Homo sapiens: one gene and its partners. The protein of the gene in region 2 interacts with the protein of the main gene of each other region in a pairwise test. Each region holds a gene or a part of one and is shown on either strand. Other genes may lie near its edges.

Region 1 (3,500 bases), on a different chromosome or scaffold from region 2:
ATTTATGATCCACCCTCCTCAGCCTCCCAAAGTGCTGGGATTACAGGCGTGAGCCACCACGCCCGGCCTTTTTGTTTTTTTTGAGACAGGGTCTCACTCTGTCACCCAGGCTGGAGTGCAGTGAGTGGTGTGATCTCTGCTCACTGCAGCCTCCACCTCCTGGGTTCAAGTGATTCTCCTGTCTCAGCTTCCCAAGTAGCTGGGATTACAGGGTATGCCACCATGCCTGGCTAATTTTTGCATTTTTAGTACAGACCAGGTTTCACCATGTTGGCCAGTCTGGTCTCGAACTCCTGACATCAAGTGATCCACCCGCCTCGGCCTCCCAAAGTGTTGGGGTTACAGGCGTGAGCCACTGCACCTGGCCTAATTTTTATATTTTTAGTAGAGATGGGGTTTCACCATGTTGGCCAGGCTGGTCTTGGACTCCTGACCTCAAGTGACCCATCTGCCTCACCTCCCAAAGTGCTGGGATCACAGGCGTGAGCTACCACACCCAGCCTGATATATGGAGTTTTGATAGTGGTGCCAGTCACCTTTTTGATCACTTTTTCCCCTTAAATTTCCAAATTCTGCTTTTAACTTTGTTGTTTGTTACCCTTTCCTCATGGCAGGGAAGAGGAGGAAGATGCAGAAATAAAGGAAGTAGACTTCAGTCAGAGAGAGGGAAAGAAACAGCATGATATAAGAGTTTATCAAATACCAGCTGTTTTGTGGTTTGGTAAGGAGGAAATAACTGGAAAAAAAAAAAAAAAAAAACACCCAAAACCAAGAGAGGACATTTTTTTGAAACAAGAGTCTTTGTTGCATTAACATCTTAGACAGTCTTTTAAAAAATGTAGACCTAAGGGCGGGGCATGGTGGCTCACACCTGTAATCGCAACACTTTGGAAGGTCAGGCTGGAGTTTGAGACCAGCCTGGGCAATATAATGAGACCTCATTTCTACAAAAAATTTAAAAATTAGCCAGGTATGGTGGCACGCGCCTGTAGTCCTAGCTACTTGGGAGGCTGAGGTGGGATTGCTTGAGCCTGTGAGGTGGAGATTTCAGTGAGCTGAGATTGCGCCACTGCATTCTAGCCTGGGTGACAGAACAAAACTCTGTCTCCTCTCCTCGCAACCTGCCCCCCTCCCCCCGCCAAAAAAAAGTAGGCCTAACAAAGGATGGAAATCTTTTTACTTGTCTTAGTAACTTAATTTTTTTTGTTTTAATGAGACATTTTGAGATTTACCTGTTTGTGTCATTTTTAAAAATCTACTACAGTATTAAGTTACAGAATTTTCAGAAAGTTATCATTCAGATGTGATTTCATGTCTTTTGTTTTTGTTTGTTTTAGACAAAAGAAGTTAGAAAAGGTGATGGAAGAAGAAGGCCTAAAAGATGAGGAGGTAATTAATATTGGCAATGTTTTCCTTAAAACCCAGCGTGGCAGGTTGTATCTTGTCCAGTGAGTTGTTAGCCTTGGTACACATGAGAAGGGTTTTGGCTCAATAACAGAGGAACTTGAGGGGTAGTGTGCTTCCGGATTTGGGTGTTAATTCAGAGGGACAGATTAATTATTAAGTACCTAGGAGAGGAAGGCTTCTCTAGATGCAGTTATAGTAAACTAGATTTAGAATTCCAAGAGAAAGCAGGGATGAAATCAAATTAAATTTTAAAAGAGCAAGTTGTAGCATTTTTATAGAATTCACTGAAAAGTCTCCGTAGGAGTAGGGCAAATTTTTGAAATATTTATTTATTTTACTTTTTCTGGGATACATACGTGTGCTGAACATGCAGGTTTATTACATAGGTATATATGTGCCATAGTGGTTTGCTGCACCTATCAACCTGTCATCTAGGTTTTAAGCTCCGCATGCATGAGGTATTTGTCCTAATGCTCTCCCTCCCTTTCCCCCCATGCCCCGACAGGCCCCGGTGTGTCATGTTCCTGAAATCTTTATTAAGGCAAAATATCCATCTCAAATCAGCCCTTCCACCCAGTGCCCACAGATACAGTAGGAGAAAATATAGTTAACAAGGGACTGTGCAAGGAACTGAAATGGTAGTGGAAATGCCTTCAAAAATAGGACTGGCTTGCAGAACCCAGGACGGTGGTGAAAAATACCCAATACTTGTAGAAATAACAGAAAGTTAGAGTATACAGTGTTTAAGCCAGAGGGAAAGATAAGAACACATTTTTAATTTATATTAAACAGGATAAAGGAAAATATTGTTGATTATTTATCCCTCCCTTCACCAAAAATGTTAGGATAGTGGATTGCTGAAGTAGGTTAGTCAGAGTTCCCAGAGGAGGCACCCATCTGTTCAGTGTGGCTTGGATGTTGTGTCTAAATGCCAGGAAAGGGAGAAGTGACCTCTTAAGGATCCTTCTGGGGTGATTTCATATGTGAAAAGATTATCCTTAGTCCACTTGGACCTGTTTTCTAGCTGGGTAAGTCACAAACATGACTTGTTACAGAGTTTCAGAATTTCAGTTCCTTCCCGTCTCCTCCCTTTTTTATTTAAATATTAGAAACGACTCCGGAGATCAGCACATGCTCGGAAGGAAACAGAGTTTCTTCGTTTGAAGAGAACAAGACTTGGATTGGAAGATTTTGAGTCCTTAAAAGTAATAGGCAGAGGAGCATTTGGTGAGGTAAAAATCACAGCTACTTGTCAAGTAGAAAAATATTGCAAAACTTCAAAGCTTCTAACATACCATTAAGTCATGATTGTTGATATAACAAATATATGGAATTAAATGAGTCAGGCATGCCAGCCCCACATCCTAATTGCTTTGTCTGTCTGCTTTCTCTTTTTCTTCTCTCCGCAGTCCCAGATCTCTGTTCTCTGTTTTGCCAGAGATGGTGTTGGTGTTTAAATATTGACTTAGGGGGAGAGTTGAAAGGTAGAAGGAAATCAACATTTATTATTTACAGGCTGCTTTTTTCCCATAATCAGGACAGTAACCCATTTTATAGATGGTGAAATTAAGACTCTAAAGGTATATATAATGTCTCTTGTTATCACACAGCCATTGAGTACTGGGACCAAAAGTTGGGCTCTACTTCCTGAACTCAAAGAGCTTGCTTTTCCCAGTACTGCACTGCCTCTCGAGAAGGAAACTAATAGTGTATCTCCACCCTTTATTTCTCCCCACCAGATTGATACAGCTCTAAAAAGATGACCCTAGGAGGGAGGATTTACAGAAAGGAGTTATATAGGTAGTGGTGGAGAGTTGAAAGCATTTGCGACTTTGTCCCCGCAATTCTTGGAAATGATCCTGCTTGGGCACAAGAGCAATCTGTTGGGGAGAGCTTGAAAGAGCCCATGCAAGGTCATTCCTGTTAATGAAAAATGCCCAAACTGGATGACCTACTGACGCAATAATTGCAAGTATAAAAGGAGCAGTATATTATTAAAACCTGGTACCCCGGGGCCAGGCACGGTGGCTCACTCCTGTAATCTCAGCACTTTGGGAGGCCAAGGCGGGCGGATCACAAGGTCAGGAGTTCGA
Region 2 (3,500 bases):
CCTGTCTTGTCCAACTCCCAGGGGCTTCATCTGGCACCAGGTCTCCTGGGAAGGAACAAGCAGTTCTTCTGAAGTGGGGCTAAAGATGGGGCCAGTCCCAGGAAGGAGGAGGCGCGTCTCCCGAGAGATGACCCTGCCAGGGCCCCTTAGGGAAGGCGGGAGGGGGCTGGGACAACAGAGTCCTTTGTTACCCTCTCAAAAGCAGCCACCCTGTCCTGCCAACCCCCTCTGTTCTCCAACCCCCTACTAGGACTCAAGCCACCCCTGGGACAGGAACCATCCTGTCCACATAGGAGGGAAGAACACAGGGTGCCCAGGGACCATCTGAGACGATACCTGTTCTAATCCCAGGGCTCACATGGGAGACAAGGCCCCAACCTCAGGAGCCCCCGGTGTGATGGAGGAGACATCCTTCCTTCAGAAGCCTCCAGTCTGAGGAGGGAGACATGGCTCCCACCTGCAAAAGCCAATCAGATGAGGGAGCCCCAGGCCTCCCGCTCAGGCGCCCCATGCTAATAGGAGTGGTATAACCCTGTCCCTCAGGACTTCCCAGTCTGATGGAGGAGTCAGGACCCCACCCCTCTCTTTTGAGAACTTGCCTAATGTGGGAAATATCGCTTTCAGTCTTACGATTCACTAATGGGAAAGGCCTAATTTCAGCACTTAGGGAGTCCCTGGACCGATAGCAGAGGCAAGAAGGGAAAAAAATTTTCAGTCCAGTTCAGCAAACCTCTGCCAGGCATCTCCTGGGGAAGCAGACCCAGCGTGGGTAAGGAAGCATCAACTGAGAAACAGAAATAGCCCTGAACCACAAGCTGCTTACCAAATGGGGAGCTCACTCAGCCTGAGGTATGAATGAATAAGAAAGTACCTTGAAACCACCCCCTCCAGCATCCAAGACCTGCTGGCCAAGGCTGTCCCTTCCTCCACAGCCTCACCCCTCACACTCCCACACCTGCAGCCAGTATCTGCACCTTGGCCTAGGCTCTTTCTTCTGTCTAGAACACCTTACTCCTGCCTAAGTCTTTCTCATACTCCAGCACCCAGCTCCGGGGTCACCTCTTCAAAGAAGCCTTCCTCCAAGTCCCCCACCTGAGTCAGAAGCCCCTCCTTTCTGGAGCCAGCACATTACATGTCTTCCCCAGGACCAGCTCACACTTCACAACCCCTCAGCCTGAGCCTGAAAGGAGAGCACAGGGCAGTGGTCTTCTGCCTCTGGACATAAGGCAGAGGGAGGGGGTGGATGAGATAAAACCCCTAGGTTCCCATACCCAGTCTTCACTGCCTGCCGCCATACTGCTTGCTCCCAGCCCAGGGCCTCACGCCCTTCCTCCAAGAGGCTCAAGCCTTGCTCCAGGCATGTAGAAAAGCAGGGTCCCCTCCCACTCCTCTCTGCCCGCTGTAGCCTAGTTTTGCCCTCACCACTCCACCAAAACCCATGCCACCAGCTAATGCCTTCTGGCTGAATCTGAGGGGTCTCGCTCCAGCTCATCCTCTGTGGGTCTGTCCCTGCTTCTTTGGCTCCAAGAATATGGCCTTCCGTCAGTTTCCTCCCTCTTCTCTCCATACCCAGGCACTGGTGCTCTCCAAGGCCCTGGCTGTCCCTAATCATCCTCTCTTCATACTCTATACCTCCTCCCTATGCGATGTCATTCATCCACATTTCCAAAGCCCTGCCTCGCACCTTGATTCTTACCCCAGGATCCAGACCCTTCTATGCAGAAGCCCCACTACGTCCAGCCTATAACAGACTGCCCTGGCTCCCTCACCAAGCTGCTCCCAGCCATGCAGGCCTCAGCCAGATGGTAGGCGCGGGCACTCTGGCAGTAGCGGAGCATGGCTGTGTAGAGGCCAGGACCTCACTTGGGGTGTGCTGACTCCCAGCCTGCTGTTCTACTGCCACCAACCCAAAGTGTCAGAAGCCCTGGAAGTGGCAAGCCCACAACTCAGGACCTCTGGACCCATGCCAACGGGAGGCGTCAGCCTCAGGCAAGGAGGCCCAAACTTGGAAGGAAGAGAGCAGTGGAGAAGTCTGAAGCCCAGAGGCCGGCCTGGAATCAGGGATCAGAGACAGTGGGCCAGACTTGATGCTACCACTCCCAGCGGCCCCATGAGCAGCCCTGGCCAAAGCCACAGGACTTCCCCATGTTCCAGCCAAGATGGGTCACACAGGGCTTAACCACCAAGAGAAATGACAGCCAAAGTTCACAGAGAGCTGGTGATTACATGTCCTCATCACCCTCCTTTCTCTGAAAAAAGAGGAGTTCATCTGCAGGAAAGGAAATTCCATTCCCTACCACTGCCTCTCAGGAAGTCCCTCCTGTTGTCTAAATCTGATCCTTCATGTTGTCTGTTGAGTAAGTGGAAACGGCAAGGCCCAGAAAGGACGCACAACTTGAGGCTGGGAGCTGCTGGGGAGGCCAACTGTGAGCCAGACAAGGCCCCCTCTCTTGGGCAAAAGCGTCGAGTAGCAGAGAGGGCTTTGTGGGTCAATAGGCCTGGGTTCTTATGCTTGCTGGCTGAATGGCAGTGAACAAATACTTAATCTCTTCTAGTCTGTTTCCTCATCTGCAAAATGGGGACAACAATGACTACACTACTAGATTACAGTTGAATTCATTGAGATTATGCGTGTAATTCTAACACACACCAGATACCTGGCAAAGGTCCAATCGACCAGCAAGGTTGATGGACTCCACCTCCTATTCACATTCATATTTCTCAACTCTATCCTCTCTGCAGCCTAAGTTCAGAGCTCACAGCCTTAGTTCTCAGGTTTCTCCCCAGCCTCCTCACTGGTCTTCCTGCTTCTAGGCCTGCTCTTCCCATCCACCCTACTTGGCGCTGCCAAAGACATCTCTCTGAAATGAAAACATCTGCTTCCAGCCCTCTGCTGCCTCACACTCTTCTCTGAATCACCATCCACTTCAGGAGAAAATGCTCTCTCCTTAGCCTGACATTCCCAGACTGCTGGTGACCGGTCTGTGTTTACCTCTTAAGGCTCACTATCATCCCCAGCCCAGGCCCCAGGCTGCACGCCTTGCTTCCTGCCTCCAAGCCACTGCACATTCTGCACCCTTGGCCAGAAATATCATTCCCAATCCCGCCCCCTTGGCCTATTCATCCTTCCAGATGAAGCTCAGTAGTTCCAACGCCACCTCCTTTCCAGGAGAGCTTCCTGTACCATGCTCCCTGCCTGGGCCTGGGTTGGGGACTTCTCCTTAAGCCTCCCACAACACATGTCATCCTGCGTTATGACCACCTGCTCTGCTCTAAATCCCTGGAGGACAGAGTAGACTCCTTCCTTGCTGAATCCCCAGGCCCTGGGCACTCAGAAGGCACTCATCAACATTTGTTGAATGAATATATGATTGTTCCCAGAGCACCTTGCAGCAACCATCATACTCCTGCCCTGTGATTAGTCCTGTCCAGGTATTTTTTTTTTTTATTTTTTCAGACAGGGTCTCACTCTCTCATCCAGGCTGGAGTGCAGTGGCATG
Region 3 (3,500 bases), on a different chromosome or scaffold from region 2:
GTGTTACCTACCAGGAAAGATAAAACAGTTAGGTGTACTGAGCACCTCCATATGCATATATCACAGGTATCTCAGCAAATTAATTCTGAATTCTAAAATTCACCTACTAAACTCATCTCAAATAGAGACTTGACAACTTTGTCTCAGGTATTGCACAGACATAAACCTGGAGGCCATACACACTTTTTCTGTCACACTTATGCATCACCCAAGAATTTTCAAGTCCACCTCCTTAAAAGTCCTTGAAATCACCATTTTTAGTCTTAGACACTCTGTTCCTTATTCTCTAGCATATTATAGTAACCTCTTAGCTGGTCTCCTCAAATCTGAAGATCCATTCTGCCTCTCTAGTATCTCAATATACTGACAGTCATCACTCTGAAACACAGGACAGATAAACACATCTCACTTTTTTCTTAAAAACTTCAAAACTGGCTTATTATTTCTTTAGTTGCATTCCAAGACCTCTTATGATCAGGCTCTAAGGTACCCTTAACATGGCATAAAACTTACACTCTGGCCTGACAGAACAAGTATCACCAGACCTGAAATGTGTGCTGTCCCCCTCATCTCATTCTCCCCTCTGCTCTAACTATACTGGCCTATGTATGGTATTTTTGAAGGCTGCTGGCTTATCTCCTATTTAGGGAACCCGTATTTGCTGTTCTCTGCCTAAATGTGCTCTCACCTCGGCTCTTATTGCTGGCTCCTTCCTATCATTCAAGTTTCAGCTCAAACTTCACCTCCTTAGACATTATCCATCGGCAAAACCAAAGTTGCTTTTAAACTGTTATCACATCATGTGTCTTCATAACGTTACTGCTATCAAAATTACCTATTTATATATTTCCTCCTCTAGAACTGTGTAAGAGAAAACTGGTTCTGTTTCGGTCACCACTGTATCTCCAGAACAGTAGTGTTCCAAGTACAAATAGTACTTGGCAGAGTGGAAATCCAAAACCTTTGTGAGAACAAATGAAAACACAGAATATATTTTCACCAAGTGTCTGAGGCTGTCAAAAGCATTCATGTTATGGTATAACTCCAATAAGACAAAAGGGAAATAGGACAAGAAAATTGTTCACCTCATCTAACTTATATTTAGAAAGATCTTCATCCTCATCCTCTTCTTCTCCCTCTGATTCTTTATCTTCAACTTCCTTTAATATAGATGCAGGACCAACTGCTTTCCCTCTGTATTTTTTCTTTTTACGTCCAAACTAGAGAAAAACAATTTCAAAATGCTTGTCAGCTGATAATGCATTAAACTTAATACATTTTCTAAAAAATTATTTTAGATATTTATGATTTCCTGAAAATGATCAGTTGCTGAAGACTCAAATTGCACTTAAAAAAAAGTTTGTTTTCCTTTGCATTTAAGAATTTTTTCTGTTTTTCTAATTTATATTCAACCTGAACACCAAAATATAGCTTACCTCATCATATTCACCATCAGATTCTTCTCTTTCTATATATTCAACATTTTCTCTTTCATTAAAACCACCACCATATCCTTAAAAAAGAGGGCACAAATTGTTACCCTATGACAATTGATTTAAATAATAAACACATCATGCCCAAATCTCCAGACAACAAAAAACATCTAATCAACAATGGCTGCCTACCCATCTAATAAATTACTAGTCTTTAGAAAGCATATTAGAAATCACCACAGAAAATACAGAGAACTTAGTTGTAACGTCATATGGCTGTACTTCTAGCTCTTTTCAATTCCAAATTGCCCTACATGACTTATTTAATTCATAGAAAGTATTGGTGGAAAACATCTCAAACTTCTGCTATAACCAAGTTTTAAAGGACTTTCCTCTACAGTTAATCGTAATTCTTCTGGGAAGGGTGGGCTCAGTAACAACCAAGCATTAAATTCCACTGTTTACCAACTGCAAATAGTCTGAAATCTTCTGATATTCTGAAATTTTGCTACTTTAAAATGTAGCAGGCCTTATTAGAGCTTGGAAAATTCCTAATTACACAGACAAACACAATAACACAATAAAGGCCATCCTTTGGCCCTGGTTTAATTGGTTTTAACACATAGGTAAAAGTCACACAGGTTCTCTGAAGTAGCCAGTAAATTTTGAAATTAAATGATTCTATTAAAAAGTAGTTGAGATTAGCAAACCACTATTCTCTCATGTCACAACCAATGTATACAATTCAATTGGCAGGTCTCTGACATAAGCTTAAAGGAGAGACTGGAATTAAAGAAAATGAGCTAGTTTTAGGAAAAGTGAGTTGACATATTTTGAAAAAGTCTCCCATTGAAAATTAAAGAGGTATGTGTTGATCAAGAGTAATACAATCTAACTGGTCACATACTCCAGAGCAGTATCAGTACAATAAGGCCGGTGATTTCCAGACTTAGGGACTTCATTCATCAGCAAAATATTAAATAGATTTATAATAAAAATATTTTATAAAAATTAGGACTTGTAACTTAAAATTTGCCTATCATATTTAAAAAAATATTTTTAAAATTTCACTTTCTGAAAAAAACCCACACTAATATAGCATCTTTTCTTCATTATACTTTGTACTAGTGAAAACTTCAAAATACTTGGAAGTTAATAAAAATATTTTTAAACATACGTGGGATCTAAATTGGAAATAATTTACATAGGAAAAAACTGAAAAGTAATATGACAAATATGGAAAGCTCAAAAATATAGTAAAATTAGAAAGTGAACTATAACTCTAGTAGTTAATTTTTCAAAAGTATGTAAATAAAATTATTTTAAGAGGCAGCAAAATAGTCTGCTGACAACAAAGACATTGGTATGTTCTATGAACCCATACAATATAAATCTAGCTCATTAACTCTGTATAAATGGAAAATACACTAGCTCCCTATCGTGAAAAAACTGAAGCATACCATTTTCACTGAATACCTGAGATAGTGGAATCAATGGAATGATATGTATGTTTCCGTCATTCTACTAATTTCAAGCACTTCAGATAATGCTGTATAAATTGGTTTTATTTCCACTCTTGCCGCCACCTCTCCTAATTACTTCTCCACAAACAGAAAGAAGAGTGTTTAATCCATTACTCAGGTAACTCATCTTTCACTTCTTAGCTTAAGCATAGCTTTCCTAAAGAGGACTTCATTAATCTTTGGTGCTGTAAGACTCTTTTGCTCACCTAGGTATCCCCAGCACCTTGCACAGTGGCCTATAAATGTCTTCAAGGAATGAATACAGAAAACACAATTCTGGAATCATCTAATGAATTTGAATTTCTATGGAAAGCTTTAGAAAGCAACCAAGAATTTCCGTAGATTTTAGTAAGTCTTACAATGAATATATTTTCAAATTTGTCTCACAGTATAATGTAAAAAGCTGAGCAAGGGCCAAGAAAGAATCAAACACAGGTTTAAAATGAATGTTTGGATCAAGATTGTGACAATGGAAAAAAAGCGGGAAAGGGGGATGAATATAACATGTACTTCAAAGGAAGAACTAAGGCACTAACAGGAAAAC
Region 4 (3,500 bases), on a different chromosome or scaffold from region 2:
AAGGTTTTCTATCAACTTGGGAAGATAGTAGTTCTCCCCAAACTATATATAATATTCAGATAGCCTCGGTCAAGACAGGATGCAAAACTCACCTAGTATCCCAGTACATCCTCAGTTTCAGTAAACATCAGAATCCTTATGTAGCTCATGTAGGTTCTGAAGAATTTTTTTTTCTCTTAATAACCTTTTCATATCCAAAACTTTTCAGGAAATTAATTCCCCCAACTGTTGGTGATTGGTAAGGATCTCACAGATATCACTGGCAGAATTTTTCATGCCCAAATGAATTCAGGTGTACCTGCTGAAGAACTAGATTGCTAGCGAACCATACTTTGAACTCAAAGTAAGTTCAGGGATCTTTCTAATGTAATGCAGAATGCAAAAATGGAACTTATATATATAGTTTTATATTGGGAGTTAAGGGAAAAGAAAGTCATATTTCTAAATTTATGCTAAAGAGGTTCTAATAATTTTCTATTTCAACCCACTTTTAAAATCTGATGCAATTTTTTTTTTCTGAAGAGGTATTTCTTCATTTATCTGTGATGATTTTTCTTTTCTTTTTATGAGGCGGAGTCTCGCTCTGTCGCCCAGGCTGGAGTGCAGTGGCGCGATCTTGGCTCACTGCAAGGTCCACCTCCCGGGTTCATGCCATTCTCCCGCCTCAGCCTCCCGAGTAGCTGGGACTACAGGCGCCTGCCACCATGCCCGGCTAATTTTTTATATTTTTTATGAGAGACGGGGTTTCACCGTGTTAGCCAGGATGGTCTCGATCTCCTGACCTCGTGATCCACCTGCCTTGGCCTCCTTAAGTTGTGATGATTTTTCTAATAATGAAAAGTAGGACCATGGTCAATATCTTCAGTAGTAGCACTAGGCTGATGATCTTTATGTAACAACAATAATATCCTACAAATGCATAGCATGTTGGTGTTTATCAGTGTGGAACATACAGGTGGACAGGGTCAAAGCACACAACAAACATGTTATCAACCAAAAATGTAACAAGGGACAGTGTGTGTGTGTGTGTGTGTGTGTGTGTGCGCGCGCACATGTAAGTACTGATGAGAACAAAGCATTCAGCACATTGTCTGGCCCATGAATTGTAAGTTCTTGGCAAAGCTTATCCAACAGCAGCAGTTTAGTATCAACTACCAGTCGTCAGATAAGTAGATTATGTCTGGTTGATAGTTCAGTTATCAGTCTGGCAGTTGTAACTAGGACTGTTGCTTTGCTGGGACCTAAAACTTTATCAGTATTTTGTAGATTTTCTTTGGCAAAGTACTCACAAAAGTTTACCTGTCTGTGTCCAGGTTGGTTGATTGCTTCTAGGATAAACTTACTAGAAGGAGGGGCTTCAGGGAAGGTGGGATTTGAGTATTCACAGATCACTCTGTAGGGGATACCATTTATAGAACCTGTTGTGAAATTCAGTCCAGCTCTCCTTTTCCATCATGACCTTGAGAAATTGTACTCACCCAACAAATCTCATCAATATGCGGTATGATGATCAGCCTCTTTCCACGTCGATTGCAGTGGGGCACAGACTTAAGCCAAGATTTATTTTACTGCTTGACACAGCGTATTTCTTTCCCATGTAACCCAATTAATTTCAGTCTTCATGATTCCTTTAATAAGACTAAGAATTCTTTCTAAAAATAAAAATGGAACCATAATAACCCTCTATCACCCGATGTCATAAATGGTGATTTTATGTTTTTAGTGTAATTGAACAATAGGATGTGGGTGTTGGAGATTTCAATTATGTTAGCACAACTTTATGCATCCGTTTGATTGATTTGCTTTTAAAATGTGATTGTAAAATATTCCCTTGTCTCACAGGCAAGACTCGGAAAGCTAGCCTCCTATCTGCCAAGTCATCCACCGAGCCCAGCTTGAAGTCTTTTAGCAGAAACCAGTTGGGCAATTACCCAACATTGCCTTTAATGAAATCAGGGGATGCACTGAAGCAGGGACAGGAGGAGGGCAGGCTGGGTGGTGGCCTTGCCCCAGACACGTCCAAGAGCTGTGACCCACCTGGTGTGACTGGTTTGAATAAAAACCGAAGAAGCCTCCCAGTTTCCATCTGCCGGAGCTGTGAGACCCTGGAGGGCCCCCAGACTGTGGACACTTGGCCCCGATCCCATTCCCTGGATGACCTTCAAGTGGAGCCTGGTGCTGAGCAAGACGTGCCTACCGAGGTGACAGAACCGCCCCCTCAGATTGTACCTGAAGTGCCACAGAAGACGACCGCCTCTTCCACGAAGGCCCAGCCCCTGGAGCAAGACTCTGCTGTCGACAATGCATTGCTACTGACCCAAAGCAAGAGATTTTCTGAACCTCAGAAATTGACAACTAAGAAACTGGAGGGCTCAATCGCAGCCTCTGGTCGCGGCCTGTCACCCCCTCAGTGTTTGCCCAGAAACTATGATGCTCAGCCTCCTGGAGCTAAACACGGTTTAGCAAGGACGCCTCTGGAGGGCCACAGAAAAGGACACGAGTTTGAAGGAACACACCATCCCCTGGGCACCAAAGAAGGGGTAGATGCTGAGCAGAGAATGCAGCCCAAAATTCCATCACAGCCTCCACCTGTTCCTGCCAAAAAGAGCAGAGAACGCCTTGCTAACGGACTCCACCCTGTTCCCATGGGCCCCAGTGGGGCCCTCCCCAGTCCCGATGCGCCATGCCTGCCAGTGAAAAGGGGCAGCCCCGCCAGCCCCACCAGCCCTAGCGACTGTCCCCCAGCACTGGCTCCCAGGCCTCTCTCAGGGCAGGCGCCTGGCAGCCCACCAAGCACAAGGCCGCCCCCCTGGCTCTCAGAGCTCCCCGAGAACACAAGCCTCCAGGAGCACGGTGTGAAGCTGGGCCCGGCTTTGACCAGGAAGGTCTCCTGTGCCCGGGGAGTGGATCTAGAAACGCTCACTGAAAACAAGCTGCACGCTGAAGGCATCGATCTCACGGAGGAGCCGTATTCTGATAAGGTATCAAAGGTCCTGGGCCCACCACGTTCACAGGCCTTTGTTTGTAGAAGTCAGGCAGCCAGGTGAGATGAACCCACATCTGAAGCCAGCCCGGTAGCCCGCCCAGTGGACAGGAGACACCTGAATCCACGTGTCCACACCTTACTTGACATGCATGTGTTCAGATATTGACACCACCCCATTTCATCTCTCCGTAGGTAAACCGAGGTTAAAAATAACCTGCATGAAGACCTCTTAGAGGGATTACTAGGAGCAAATAAAATAAATGTGGACAAAAGAACCCTATTCAGATGTGATAATTGTATTATACAGTTATCTGTATGGGTAATGGGAAAAAGATAATATAAAATCCCCCATTGTACCAAAAACATTTAGCTGTATAATGAAAAATTATTTCTCATTCAAAAAAAATGAGATCTACCAATACCAAGTGACTCCAAAGACAAAGCAATGCTAACAGATACAGCAGTACTTTACTCCTGGAAATACAGGTCCTATTAGGATGCATTCCTGAGAGTC
Region 5 (3,500 bases), on a different chromosome or scaffold from region 2:
TTGCAGTGAGCTGATCACGCCACTGCACTACAGCCTGGGTGATAGACTGAGACTCTATCTCAAAAAAAAAACAAGATCAAGAGAGAAACTGGTCCTTTTTTGGACAGAGAGGACCCTGCTACTCCTCCAGCGCCCTGAAGCTGCGGGTGTTCTCTCCCCATTTCCCCAACGCCATTCTCTCTCCCGGCCCTCCTCTGCCCAGGCTCTCAATCTTGTTCTTTAAGGACAAGTAAGCAAATCAAGGGGCTTGGGAAGCTTTGCTGGAGGATTTAAAGCCATTTCCTCCGGCAAAGCTGTGTTCAGACGGGCCCAGCGGCTCTCATGGACATGGCTCCTGTCCTGACTTTGCCGCTTGACCTACTTCCTCCATTTAGGAGGGACGCAGAAGGCAGGAAGCCCAGAACTGTGGAGCAACCGCAGGCGCAAGGATGGGTGGACATGGTATGAACCTCAGCTCCCCCAAGACTCATGCTGGGGCCCTGGCGGTTATGAGATTTTCCTCATCTGAGAGATGAAATGACAATCCCCACCCACGGGACTGTTGAGAGGCTCCATGTGCTCCTTGCATGACCCAGTACACAGCAGGCGCTCAATGCATGCTCGTTTTTCTTTTCCTTTGCAGTTCACAGTGAACTTTCATCAATAGGAGTCCACCTGGTTCTCTCTGTAACCCAGTGAGTTGAGTGCTGTTTCCCTCGTTCACAGAAGAGGGGAGAGAAGGGACTGGCCCGGGCACCCCGTCCAGATGCAGAGACCACCTCCCGAGATGCAGGTTTGACCCCACGGGTTGTCAGCTCACCTGCACCTTCTTCAGAGCCACTGTCTTCCTGTCCAGCAGGCAGGTGGCCTTGTACACCTCGCTGAACTGTCCTCGGCCTATCTTCTTTTCGATCTGGAAGTCCGCCAGCGAGCAGCGAAAAGACAGCGTGTTGGGATGCCTCTGGAACGGGGGACAGAGGGCCTCCGTGAGCAGCCAGGCTGCAGCAGAGGCCTGGGGACGACCCCTAGAGGCCCAGCACCCCAACAGCACCCTCTAAGGTGAAGGAGGGACTCTGCTGCCAACCCTGCTCTGGGAGCCTCCCAGGCACCCCCCCAGGGGGCTTTCTGCACAGGGTCCCCTGGGTCCCCTCAAGGACCCCCAGTGCAGGTGAAAAACTGAGGCTGTTCATGCTCCCCACTGCCCTCATCACCACCTTCATTGTCTGACTGCTTGTTTGTTTGCTGTCTCTGAGTCCCATCCCTGGGGGCTAGCTCCGTGGGACCACGGGCGTTGCCCGTCTCATCCTCTCCTGAATCCTTGATGCCCAAACTGGGGTCCGGTAAGCCGGGTGCAGCTCATGTATCCCCAGCCCGTGGCCACCATGCAAAATGCCCCAGGTCATCATAAGAAATGGCAAGTTCCCTTCCTGGGGCAGCCGTTCCCCATCTCAGACAAGAAAACCAAGGTTAATATTCATAGCCTTGGCCAGGTGTGGTGGCTCACGCCTGTAATCCCAGCATTTTGGGAGCTGAGGCGGGAGTTCGAGAGGTCAGGAGTTCGAGACCAGCCTGGCCAACATGGCGAAACCCTGTCTCCACTAAAAATATAAAAATTAGCTGGGTGTGGTGGCCCATGCCTATAATTCCAGCTACTCAGGAGGCTGAGGCATGAGAATCGCTTGAACCCAGGAGGCAGAGGTTGCAGTGAGCAGAGATCATGCCACTGCACTCCAGCCTGGGTGATGGAGACTCTGTCCCCCTCTCAAAAAAATGTGCAGCCTTACACCCTGAGCCCATCCTTTAGATAAACTGCCTTTTTTAGGGTGTCGTGAAGAAACCAGAGCTCCACAAAGACTCTGCAGGGGCCAGCATTGGAACACATGATCCTGCGCTAGGACCTGCCCAGGGATGGAGCCTCCAGGTGAGACCACAGTGGCCAGGAGGACCCCAGGACACCTGTGCAGTGAGCTCTCAGGAAAAGGCAGGAGGGGGCGCCAACAGTGGGCCAGGGAAGGAGGAGACAGACAAGGGGAGAGGATGCCACATCTCTGGCCTGCCCTATGGTGAGATGGGCCCGGCTGTGTCTCCATTTGCCTGATGAGGAAACTGAGGCCCAGAGGGGCCAGCCATGCCCACATCACCCAGCTCCATGCCACCGCCCCTAGTGAAGCCAGAACAAGCAGTTCAACTTTCTAGCATGAAGTGGGTCTTTGGTGAGGGTCACACTGAGCCGGGCACCGTACCGAGGCGTCTTTAGGAGCCAGCACCCTGGCGGAAGGCATCAAGACCAAACCGAGAACTACAGGACTGGCCCTTCTGACAGCTGCTTCCCCACCTGGAAACACCAGGAACTGCTGGCCGGACCAGCTGCGTCTCAGCCTGAGATGCCTGCGGAGCAGGGGCACGTCTCCTGGGCAGGTCTAAGCTGGGTCCATCAACTTCTCCTCTGTCCTTCTCCCAGAGTGCCTGAGGGGAACCTGGTTATGTGGTGATCCCTACTCTGGGACCCTGAATCATGACTTAATGAATAATAGAAACTCACTGGAAAAGCAGGGAAAAAAGTAAAGTGAAAATGTCTCTTCTAGGCCAGGCGCAGTGGCTCACGCCTGTAATCCCAGCACTGTGGGAGGCCGAGGCGGGCGATCACTTAAGGTCAGGAGTTTGAGACCAGCCTGGCCAAAAAATTTTTGTAAAAACACAAAAATTAGCCGGGTGTGGTGGTGGGTGCCTGTAAATCCCAGCCATTTGGGAGGCCGAGGCAGGAGAATTGCTTGAACCTGGGAGGCGGAGGTTGCAGTTGGCCTAGATCGTGCTACTGCACTCCAGCCTGGGTGACGGTGAGACTCCATCTCAAAAAAAAGAAAATGTCTCTTCCAGATTTGGCTGAGGGAACTCTACAGAACACCCTCCTGCGGGAGTGAGTGATGGGAGTCCAGGCCTCACAGCACACAGCAAGGTGAGGGCTGGGCCAACCTTGACTTTGAAGCCTCGAGGCCTAATTACCTCTCATGGTGGGTCCTGCCAGAGGACCCGATCTGGAGGGCTGCTGGAGGAGGAAGATGATGATTTTATCCACCATGTGCCAATGTCTGTCGGGTAAATACACCTGTACACAGAGCACCCACCTAAGAAGAGCAGGCATCCTGAGTGTCTACTGCATGCTGGGCTCTGTGCAGACACCGCCCACGCGCCCACTCTTTGGGTCCTCAGAACAACCCTGTGAGTGGGCCTCACTGCTGTCCCCATTTCAGGAATCTGAGGCTTGGAGGGGTAGCAGTGACCTGTTCTGATCAGGCAGCAAAGAACAGCAGAGCTGGGGTGTGACCCCAGGACTGGGGACTGTGGTGCCCAAGCTCTTGCTCCGTATCGGGTGGGCTCTCAGCTCAGATCCCTCCTCGGCTTTTCACTCAAGACCCCCTGACCGGCCAGGCCTGCCACTTCCTGCTCCAGCCTCCATTCTTTCAGTCACCTGAGCCCTGCCCCAGGCCCCGCCCCAGGACCCGCCACCGGCCTCTTCAAAA
Region 6 (3,500 bases), on a different chromosome or scaffold from region 2:
GCGGTAATGCTCACTTGCCTGCCACTCACCTCCTGCGGTGTAGTCAGGTTCCTAACAGGTCACGGACTGGTAGATACGAGGCTGTGGCCCAGGGGTTGGGGGCCCCTGGTATAGAGGCACTAAACAGAGCCCTGGGGTAACCTCTGAAGAAGGTCCTTGAAACCCCAAAACAGTGTTTTTCAAACTGCCTGTTGCAGCCAATTTGGCTGTCAATTTCATAAGGTGATTTTGTGACCGGCAGAAAAAAAGAATAGAATGTTACAGAAAATCAGATCACCTCATATCCAGTAAGGTTTTATTCACTAATTCTTTCACCAAATATTTTAGTACCTATGTGCCAGGTACTATTATAGATGAAGATTTTAAAACTACAAAACAGACAAAAACAGTTTCACATATGCATTAGTGCAATTTGGAATTTTTATTCTGGCCAGGTGTGGTGGCTCACGCCTGTAATCCCAGCACTTTGGGAGGCTGAGGCGGGCAGATCACGAGGTCAGGAGATTGAGACCATCCTGGCCAACACGGTGAAACCCCGTCTCTACTAAAAATACAAAAAATTAGCTGGGCGTGGTGGCAGGCGCCTGTAGTCCCAGCTACTGGGGAGGCTGAGGCAGGAGAAAGGCAGAAAGGCGTGAACCCGGGAGGCAGAGCTTGCAGTGAGCTGAGATCGCGCCACTGCACTCCAGTCTGCGAGACAGAGCGAGACTCCGTCTCAAAAAAAAAAAAAAAAAAAATTATTATTTACAATGATAGAATGTTTTCGAAAAATTCTCCTAGAGCTCTGGCGTACTTTGAAAACCACCGTCCCACAGTACATTTGTCCCAAACGTGCTGTCAGGAACTGCAGCTACATTACAAGAATGAAAACGACGCTTTATCCGATGTTACAGAGCTTCCAGAAGATATAAAGTTAATTGAGTTCAAAGCAATTTTTATATTCTACATCACCAGGGCCCAGAAAAAGAAGTTACTGGGCATTGAGTTCCCTCTATATGCATAGTCTTGATACAGGAAGGAATTAGAATAATAGTTTTTTTTTTTAAGCCCAAGAGAAAACATGGACACAAAAATAATCTCAGAGGGTAGGGGGGAAAAATAATTGCTTAATGTTAGGGTGGAGACTGTATTAAAGAGTATCTTCTGATTACCATGCTAATTAAGTATGTTAGTGATTTAGGCTGGAAAAATTGAAATCGAAAAATAAAAACATGGCAATGAAAACAAAAAATTTAAGAAAGAAATGGAACAAATGAGGCTATATTTTTCTTCTTACACTAACATGAAGTTATCCATAACCTTATGATTTTAAAAAGCAGTACTTGACACCTTAAAAACAGAAAAGCTCCCAAATAGGCCCACCTATTTTGAATTCAGAAGTTCTACAAGCAAGTTTTTTTGTTTTTTTTTTGTTTGTTTGTTTGTTTGTTTTGAGGCAGGGTCTCACTCTGTTGCCAGGCTAGAGTGCAGTGGTGCGATCATGGCTCACTGCAGCCTCGAACTTCAGGGCTCAAGTGATGCTCCCATCTCAGCTTCCCAAGTAGCTGGGACTACAGGTGTGAGCCACCACGACCAGCCCTACTGCCACATCTGACTTTACAGAATAACCAATGTAAGTTAAAATAGAGAAACAGAATGAGTAAAGGACTTAAAACACTTTAACTTCTGATGAAGACAAAATCTAGTAAGAGCTACTGACAAAAAAAGGCTTAAGGACAATATGAGGCAGAAATGTAAGGTGACTAGACCATACTGGATTTCATAAAACAAGGGGATTATGACACAAAATGTTCACTAGGTATTCAGCTAAATTAACAACATCAAAGTGTCAAAGAAACAAAATGCACTTCTGCAGTTCTGAAAGAGAAAACAATTTTATAATTGGGAGAAAAAGGGAAAAGGAAGAACACAAAAGTAGTCATCGCATTCTCTGACAAGGTGGGCATCAGGTCTTAGAAAATGCCAAAAATCAGAGGAACCTATTCCCTCCCTCTCTTCCCCATCACTCATGGAACACAGGTTTCCAGCTGCTATATCCAGACCCACCTCCTATTCATTCTAATCAAGAAAGCAAGGGATAGAAAAACAAGAAAAGTCAGACTGTTCTAGCCTGTTACCCTAATGTAATTTTTCTGGCCTATTATCCAAATACATGTACAATTAAATCAAGTTTGCACTCACATTTACTACATTCAAGGATTCAAGCACCCAGTCCAACATTCCTTTCTTAGCTGTTTACTGACAGTTTATTCCTTTAATGGCCAACATATAAAATGACTGACAGATAATATTCTAAACAGAAAAAGGAGTGAGTGGATGCCTAAAGAAGGGAGTTCAGTAAATAAGGAGAGAGAAAAGAATATAGAAAGTGAACACTAGAAATACCAAAGACAAACAACTATTTTATGATTTTTGCCACAAGGGCACCTGTGAATATATCTGTATAAGTATTAACAGCAATAGCCAAAACTGCACAAGCACCTGCATTAATGAGAATACCACTTTTCAGGGTTATGATGCAATCCAACCTGGTGTGGCTTGCAAAGATGTATTTTAATACAGTGGACCTCATTATAAAGGAGATTATATCCCAGAATATTCCCTAGTCAATACATTATTATAATTAAACAGTTTAAGACTGACGATCAGAGATCTTGAAAACAGAACATAATAAAATTGTAATTCTAATGCAATTGTGAGAAGCTCCCTTCTACAGAAACAGCACAGGAAGAACAGTTAATAAATATCACTCTGGTATCACACTTAAAAAAATGTATTTATTATACCATATGGTTAATTTATACCATACACTATTTCATACCATATGGCCATAGAAAAAAAATCAGGTAAATATAAATGGTCAGATGTTAATGTTTAATGCCAAAAGTACAAGTACATTCATTTGATAAATATTTAATAAGCACTAATCATTTACCAGAATATTCTATTTTGAGCACCTACAAAGTATTAATACTACAAATACAGGATGTGAAATTTGTTCATTCCCCAACATATTTTAAAGACTAAAATCTACATCCTATGTTCAAGATGTTTGATGGCAGTAAAAAATTAAAAACAACCTAACACCCCAAAAAAATGATTAGTTAAATAAATCACAGTATGTCTAATAATACGTAGAAATTTTTGCTTTAAGTTTTTTAAAATACAAAACTACATAGTGTTATAAAAGCATTAAAAAAGAACAGATGGAATACACCAAAATGTCTATAGTAATAATATCTTAGTGGCAAAATTACTGATGATTTTTTACTTTTTGTACTTATAGTTTTCTAATTTTTGATAATGACTTGCTTTCCCTTTGAAATCAGACTTTTTTTTTAGATGAAATTTCCCTCTGGGAAACTTTTATTTAAAAAAAAAAAACCTACATTTTACTGTTAGGTAAAATAAATCTTCAGAATAAAATGTGTCATTACACACAAGCAAACCTTTTCATTCTTTCCATGTAATTTGCAGTAAAAGATCCCTTTAAGTGAATG
Region 7 (4,222 bases), on a different chromosome or scaffold from region 2:
AAGCCTCAAACTAAAAAAATTAAAAATAATTAAATAATTAGAAAAAGATAAATTAGCCATCTCCCTCCTATAGCCTAGCATTGCATTTATAATAAACACATTACTAGAGAGAAGATTCTGAGAAAAGGCATTAGAGGCCATCTTCTTAAACAGTCTTTTCCGATGGGATCAAGCAGTAACCTAAAACCTTGCCAAGTCAAATACTTACCGTTCCGAGGTAACCTAAGAGTGAAAACTGAGGGGAAGCAGGGAAGCCCTGTAAAATTTAGTCTGAGACCAAAGAAGTAGTGAGAGGGCGGGCGGGAAGGGTGGCGCGAGGTGGGCGGGGGTGGGGGGGAGGAGAAAAAATCCTGCAAGGATTAGCAGAAGTGCCTGTTTCAGTTACATGCCGCGTCCACGTCCACGCGCAGAGCCGCGCACTGGCACATTCAGCGCCCTGCACAGAGCTCCCAGCGCCGGGCACTGAACTTTACTGGAGCCTTCAGGTTAAACAGGATAGAGAAGAAGGGTCACCCCCACTCCGGTCTTGTAGGGCTGAGGTGGGAACTTTTTTGTAAAACCTTTCACAAAAAAGAGAAGGAAGAGGCCAGGTGCAGGCGCAGAGCCCTCTTTCTTTGGAGACACCTCGTTGCTAATTAGCATTGGTTTGGCAAAATATTGCACTTCATCTTGGACTAGGAGAAAATGAGCGCTTTTGAAAAGGGCAAAGGTATGGCTCCTTCTTCCTCCTTCCTCCAGCGCTGTCAGCACTCGGCCTCAGCACTTTCTACCGAAGAGGTTCTTTCTATGGTTTTCCGGCAGAGTAATGAATTCAGGGAAATACAGCCGAAAAGAGAAGGGGCAAAGCCTTAAAAACAAAACCACAACAACCATAAAAGCCTTTATTTGAATTATAGAAGGAAGGAAGGAGAAGGAGAAAAAGAAAGAAAAGAAATCTAAAGGGAATAAAATGGGCTTCGCAGGTCGCCCCCAGGATTCCGTGGGTTTGCACCTCGGGACCGCACCGCGGGGGTGAAGGTGAAGACCTAGTGTATGGCCCCACGATTCCAGGAGACGAAGGAGAAATCGGAGACACCCACCAGACTTTGTAAGAAAACTTTTAATGACTGTGTGCCAGTCAGTGCGTTTTTAAACTTGTTCAGTGTTCGTGACTCCTTGCCCAAGCAAAGTAATCCCCCAGACCCCGGCCGCCACCTCTCCCCCACGCCCTGCCCGGGAGAATCCAGCTGGTCTCCCCACCCTCTCAGACCCCCTTCGGTCCCCACTCCTAGCCCCAGCCGATCGAGAATCTGGCGGTGGAAATTCCAGGCGCCGCCCCTCCCTCCCCCGGCCTGAACTCGGAGTTTGGGCGCCTTTGCCCCTTCCCCTCCCTTCCAGAGCCCTCTCCCGCCCAACCTGTAAGCCGGACTAGCTGCTCTGCAGTGTCTGCCGCCCCCACCCCCAGCACAGGTCGCAGCGCCCGGCATCCTCCCACGCTTCCCTCCTGCCCTGCTCGCCGCCGGCCCCCGGCCCCCGGCCTCCTCCCGCTCGGCAGTGGCTAGCAGCGGGGGAAGTCCCGCCTGCGGCTCCCAGACCCCAGCCCTTTGCAGCCTCTCTGAGTCCCCCATCGCCGCCTCTGAGCTCTCCCGTCGCCCTCCCGCCAATCCCTACTCGGTTTTGCTGCCTTCTATCCCTCCACCCCCAGCAACGCCCAGCTCCCAAGCCTCTTGGCCGGCCCGCCCTGCGACCCCCCAGTTCCCCGCTTACGGACCTTGGGATCTCCGCTGCCGCCGCCGTCGCTGCCACCGCCTGCTGTGCCCGACCCGCCGCTTGCCTCTCTCTGCCGTTCGCCCTGGGACGGGCGGACGGAGCTCGGCTCCGGCGGGCTCAGACCTCCCTGCTCGATTCTCGGGCGCGGGGGTCTGTGCTCCGCCGCCCGGGATCTGCCCGGGAGCCGTCCTGGAGCCCCAGGGCCGCGGCGAGCGGGCTCTTGGCCCGGCTAGGGAGAGGCCACTGCGTTGCGCTCTGGTAAGGGCCGCCGCGGCCGCCGCGAACTTAACTTTCACAGAGCAGGTCGCAGCCCCGCTGCTCCCTCCGCGTCAGTTCGGTCCGCGCTGCCTCAGCGCGGCCGCCCTTGCGGCGTCCGGCTCGGCTTGCTGTCCCCGGGCGAATCGCCTGACTCTCCCGCTCGGGTGCCGGCTCCCTCCGCATCAGGCCCCGACGGGACAGGGATCCTCGGGCTGCCGCGCACCACGGGAACGCTTTGTACTTGGATGCCCAAAGCTAATTCTCTGTGCTCTCTCGGCCTTGAGAACCTCCACGTTTAGAGGGCCGGGACAGAATACTACCACCCCCAGGCTTGCGGGGAATTTGGGAGCAGGGATGTTCAATATGAGGGCACTGTCCATAGATTCTCTATTCGGGGAGCTCAAAAACTAACGCCCTAGGGGTTGCAAGTCTCTGCACACTGGGTAGGGAGAAGAAGGGGTGGCTTACCAGAATTCCGGAGCTTCTTGTTCTTCGTCACAGCCAAAATGACCATGGAGTTGCCGATTAGGTCTACAACGATGGTGATAACCATCGCGCAGAACATAAAGATGATTAGAGCCGGTGGGTATTCTGGCTGGGGTAGCTTACAGCCAATACAGCCATAGGGGGTGGGAACCGCTAGGGTGGGCCCCATGTTGCTCCTGGGGATCGTTAAGATCTCCCAGCAGGCTCAGGATCAGCAGCCAGGTCCAGACAGCAAACACCTGTTCTGTCACCAGGAGCTCCAGGAAAGCGTGCCTCCCTCTCTGAGAGTCAGAGAGCAAATGACAGCATCCCGCCCCTCTCCGATGAGCTTTTAAAGCCTCAAGAGGCGGCTAGCCCCACCCCAAATCCCTCCCCCCGACCAATCAGACCTCCCTGAATACCCCCCCCTTGGCTACCCCCTCTTATTGGACAAATCCACATTGAGGTGTCATCTTGCTTCCGACTGCCTTGTATGTACTTCCTCTCTAGCCAGCCTGCCCTGCCTCTCAATCTCCCAGGTACCTTGCAAGCATCATGACTAGCTCGGAGTCCACCCCACACCCCCTCCACCAGCCCCTGTGCATTCGTTTCTAGCAAGTTCTTCTCCCTCTCTCCTCCAGTGCAAACACCTGGCAAAGAGATGTAGATTGCAGAGCCGGAGCACAGAGTCTTTCATAGGATCCAGTGCTAGACCAAGCCAGTCCACAGCCCCCAGCAGGGTATAGGGGATAGCCGGTGGCCCCTTGAACGCTAGATGCTTGCCTCTGCAAGTATCCTTGTGAGGTCCATCCCACGCCCCATGCCCTTGCCTGTCTAGAGCCTTCTGTGTCCCGCGGGGAACAGGGGACTACTGCTGGGAGCTCCCACCCCCAATCTGGGTCCCTAATCCCTAGGGAACTTAACCCCGCTCCCTTTCTCGCCAGGAGCCTCTTGGCTCCCTTAGCGGCAGCTGCGAGTAGCCGCTCAGTCCGGTCCAGGTCTTGCACTCTCCATAAAGAGATGTACCCTGCGCCCGACTCTGGAAGTGGGGAGCGGGTCTGCACCCTGGGACCTAGGGAAGGCATTGGTGGCCACTCGGTCCTCAGTTTGGGGGCGAACGGGAGCGGGAGCTCGTCTCCTTTCCAGCTGCCGGCAGCCAGGCGGCGGAAGCCAAGGGACGCTTTGGGAAAAAGTAAAACAGGCAATAAAGCTCTTCTCTTGGGTCCCCGCTTCTCAAGGAAACTCAGGACGAGAGGCTCTGACGCCTCTCCCTCTCGGGATGCTCGGCATTCTCTACTGAGCGGCACGGGGCAGTCAGGAAGGCTGAAGGAGCTGCGCCGCAGCCGCGGGAAAGGTGCGGAGGTGTCACGCGGCTAAACCAAGAAGCCTCTGGCTGACCGGCGATCCCTGCCTCAGTCAGGATTCCTCTCGGTCTTTCTCCTTTCCCATGCCCTTCTGGGGTTCTCGTTTCGACCCCATCCCTCTCAGGCCTCCCCCCTCGCCCTCCACACCGCGGATCTCTGTCCCCGTGCGTCACAGTTCCCCTGCGGTGCGCCCAGGATCTCGCTCCGCGGGGACCACGGAAAATTCGAATATTCGGGCAAAACTAAAGGGGCGTGATTCGGACACTCGTTCCCTCAATAACCTTGGTCACGGGAATGGATTTCTGCCGGCTACTAAAAGTTACGGCTCCTGTCGAGAAGCCTTTCAAAATCTCAGTAAACACCTTGAAACTTGTTCCAGACTAGTC

Evidence for each region.
Region 1: the proteins of ARRB1 (region 2) and STK38 interact in binary tests that used the Homo sapiens proteins (3 or more experiments, as listed by UniProt).
Region 3: the proteins of ARRB1 (region 2) and ZRANB2 interact in binary tests that used the Homo sapiens proteins (3 or more experiments, as listed by UniProt).
Region 4: the proteins of ARRB1 (region 2) and SASH1 interact in a two-hybrid assay, tested with the Homo sapiens proteins (one large-scale study listed by BioGRID).
Region 5: the proteins of ARRB1 (region 2) and NEK6 interact in a two-hybrid assay, tested with the Homo sapiens proteins (one large-scale study listed by BioGRID and IntAct).
Region 6: the proteins of ARRB1 (region 2) and BRAF interact in a protein complementation assay, tested with the Homo sapiens proteins (one large-scale study listed by IntAct).
Region 7: the proteins of ARRB1 (region 2) and GPR50 come close enough for resonance energy transfer, tested with the Homo sapiens proteins (one study listed by BioGRID).

The regions. Positions count from the first base shown.
Region 1 is NC_000006.12:36,523,480-36,526,979, reverse strand, and holds part of STK38 (serine/threonine-protein kinase 38), read left to right. Parts: intron 1-1,337; coding exon 1,338-1,389; intron 1,390-2,516; coding exon 2,517-2,639; intron 2,640-3,500. UniProt on the Homo sapiens protein: Serine/threonine-protein kinase that acts as a negative regulator of MAP3K1/2 signaling. Converts MAP3K2 from its phosphorylated form to its non-phosphorylated form and inhibits autophosphorylation of MAP3K2.
Region 2 is NC_000011.10:75,345,162-75,348,661, forward strand, and holds part of ARRB1 (beta-arrestin-1), read right to left. Parts: intron 1-3,500. UniProt on the Homo sapiens protein: Functions in regulating agonist-mediated G-protein coupled receptor (GPCR) signaling by mediating both receptor desensitization and resensitization processes.
Region 3 is NC_000001.11:71,071,036-71,074,535, forward strand, and holds part of ZRANB2 (zinc finger Ran-binding domain-containing protein 2), read right to left. Parts: intron 1,514-3,500; coding exon 1,437-1,513; intron 1,221-1,436; coding exon 1,086-1,220; intron 1-1,085. UniProt on the Homo sapiens protein: Splice factor required for alternative splicing of TRA2B/SFRS10 transcripts. Binds to ssRNA containing the consensus sequence 5'-AGGUAA-3'. May interfere with constitutive 5'-splice site selection.
Region 4 is NC_000006.12:148,541,838-148,545,337, forward strand, and holds part of SASH1 (SAM and SH3 domain-containing protein 1), read left to right. Parts: intron 1-1,842; coding exon 1,843-2,981; intron 2,982-3,500. UniProt on the Homo sapiens protein: Is a positive regulator of NF-kappa-B signaling downstream of TLR4 activation. It acts as a scaffold molecule to assemble a molecular complex that includes TRAF6, MAP3K7, CHUK and IKBKB, thereby facilitating NF-kappa-B signaling activation.
Region 5 is NC_000009.12:124,309,949-124,313,448, reverse strand, and holds part of NEK6 (serine/threonine-protein kinase Nek6), read right to left. Parts: intron 941-3,500; coding exon 800-940; intron 1-799. UniProt on the Homo sapiens protein: Protein kinase which plays an important role in mitotic cell cycle progression. Required for chromosome segregation at metaphase-anaphase transition, robust mitotic spindle formation and cytokinesis.
Region 6 is NC_000007.14:140,918,430-140,921,929, forward strand, and holds part of BRAF (serine/threonine-protein kinase B-raf), read right to left. Parts: intron 1-3,500. UniProt on the Homo sapiens protein: Protein kinase involved in the transduction of mitogenic signals from the cell membrane to the nucleus. Phosphorylates MAP2K1, and thereby activates the MAP kinase signal transduction pathway. Phosphorylates PFKFB2.
Region 7 is NC_000023.11:151,175,162-151,179,383, reverse strand, and holds the start of GPR50 (melatonin-related receptor), read right to left. Parts: upstream 2,801-4,222; 5' UTR 2,663-2,800; coding exon 2,476-2,662; intron 2,008-2,475; exon of another isoform or gene 1,548-2,007; intron 1-1,547. UniProt on the Homo sapiens protein: G protein-coupled receptor that plays a role in numerous physiological processes including regulation of energy metabolism, neurite outgrowth or cell migration.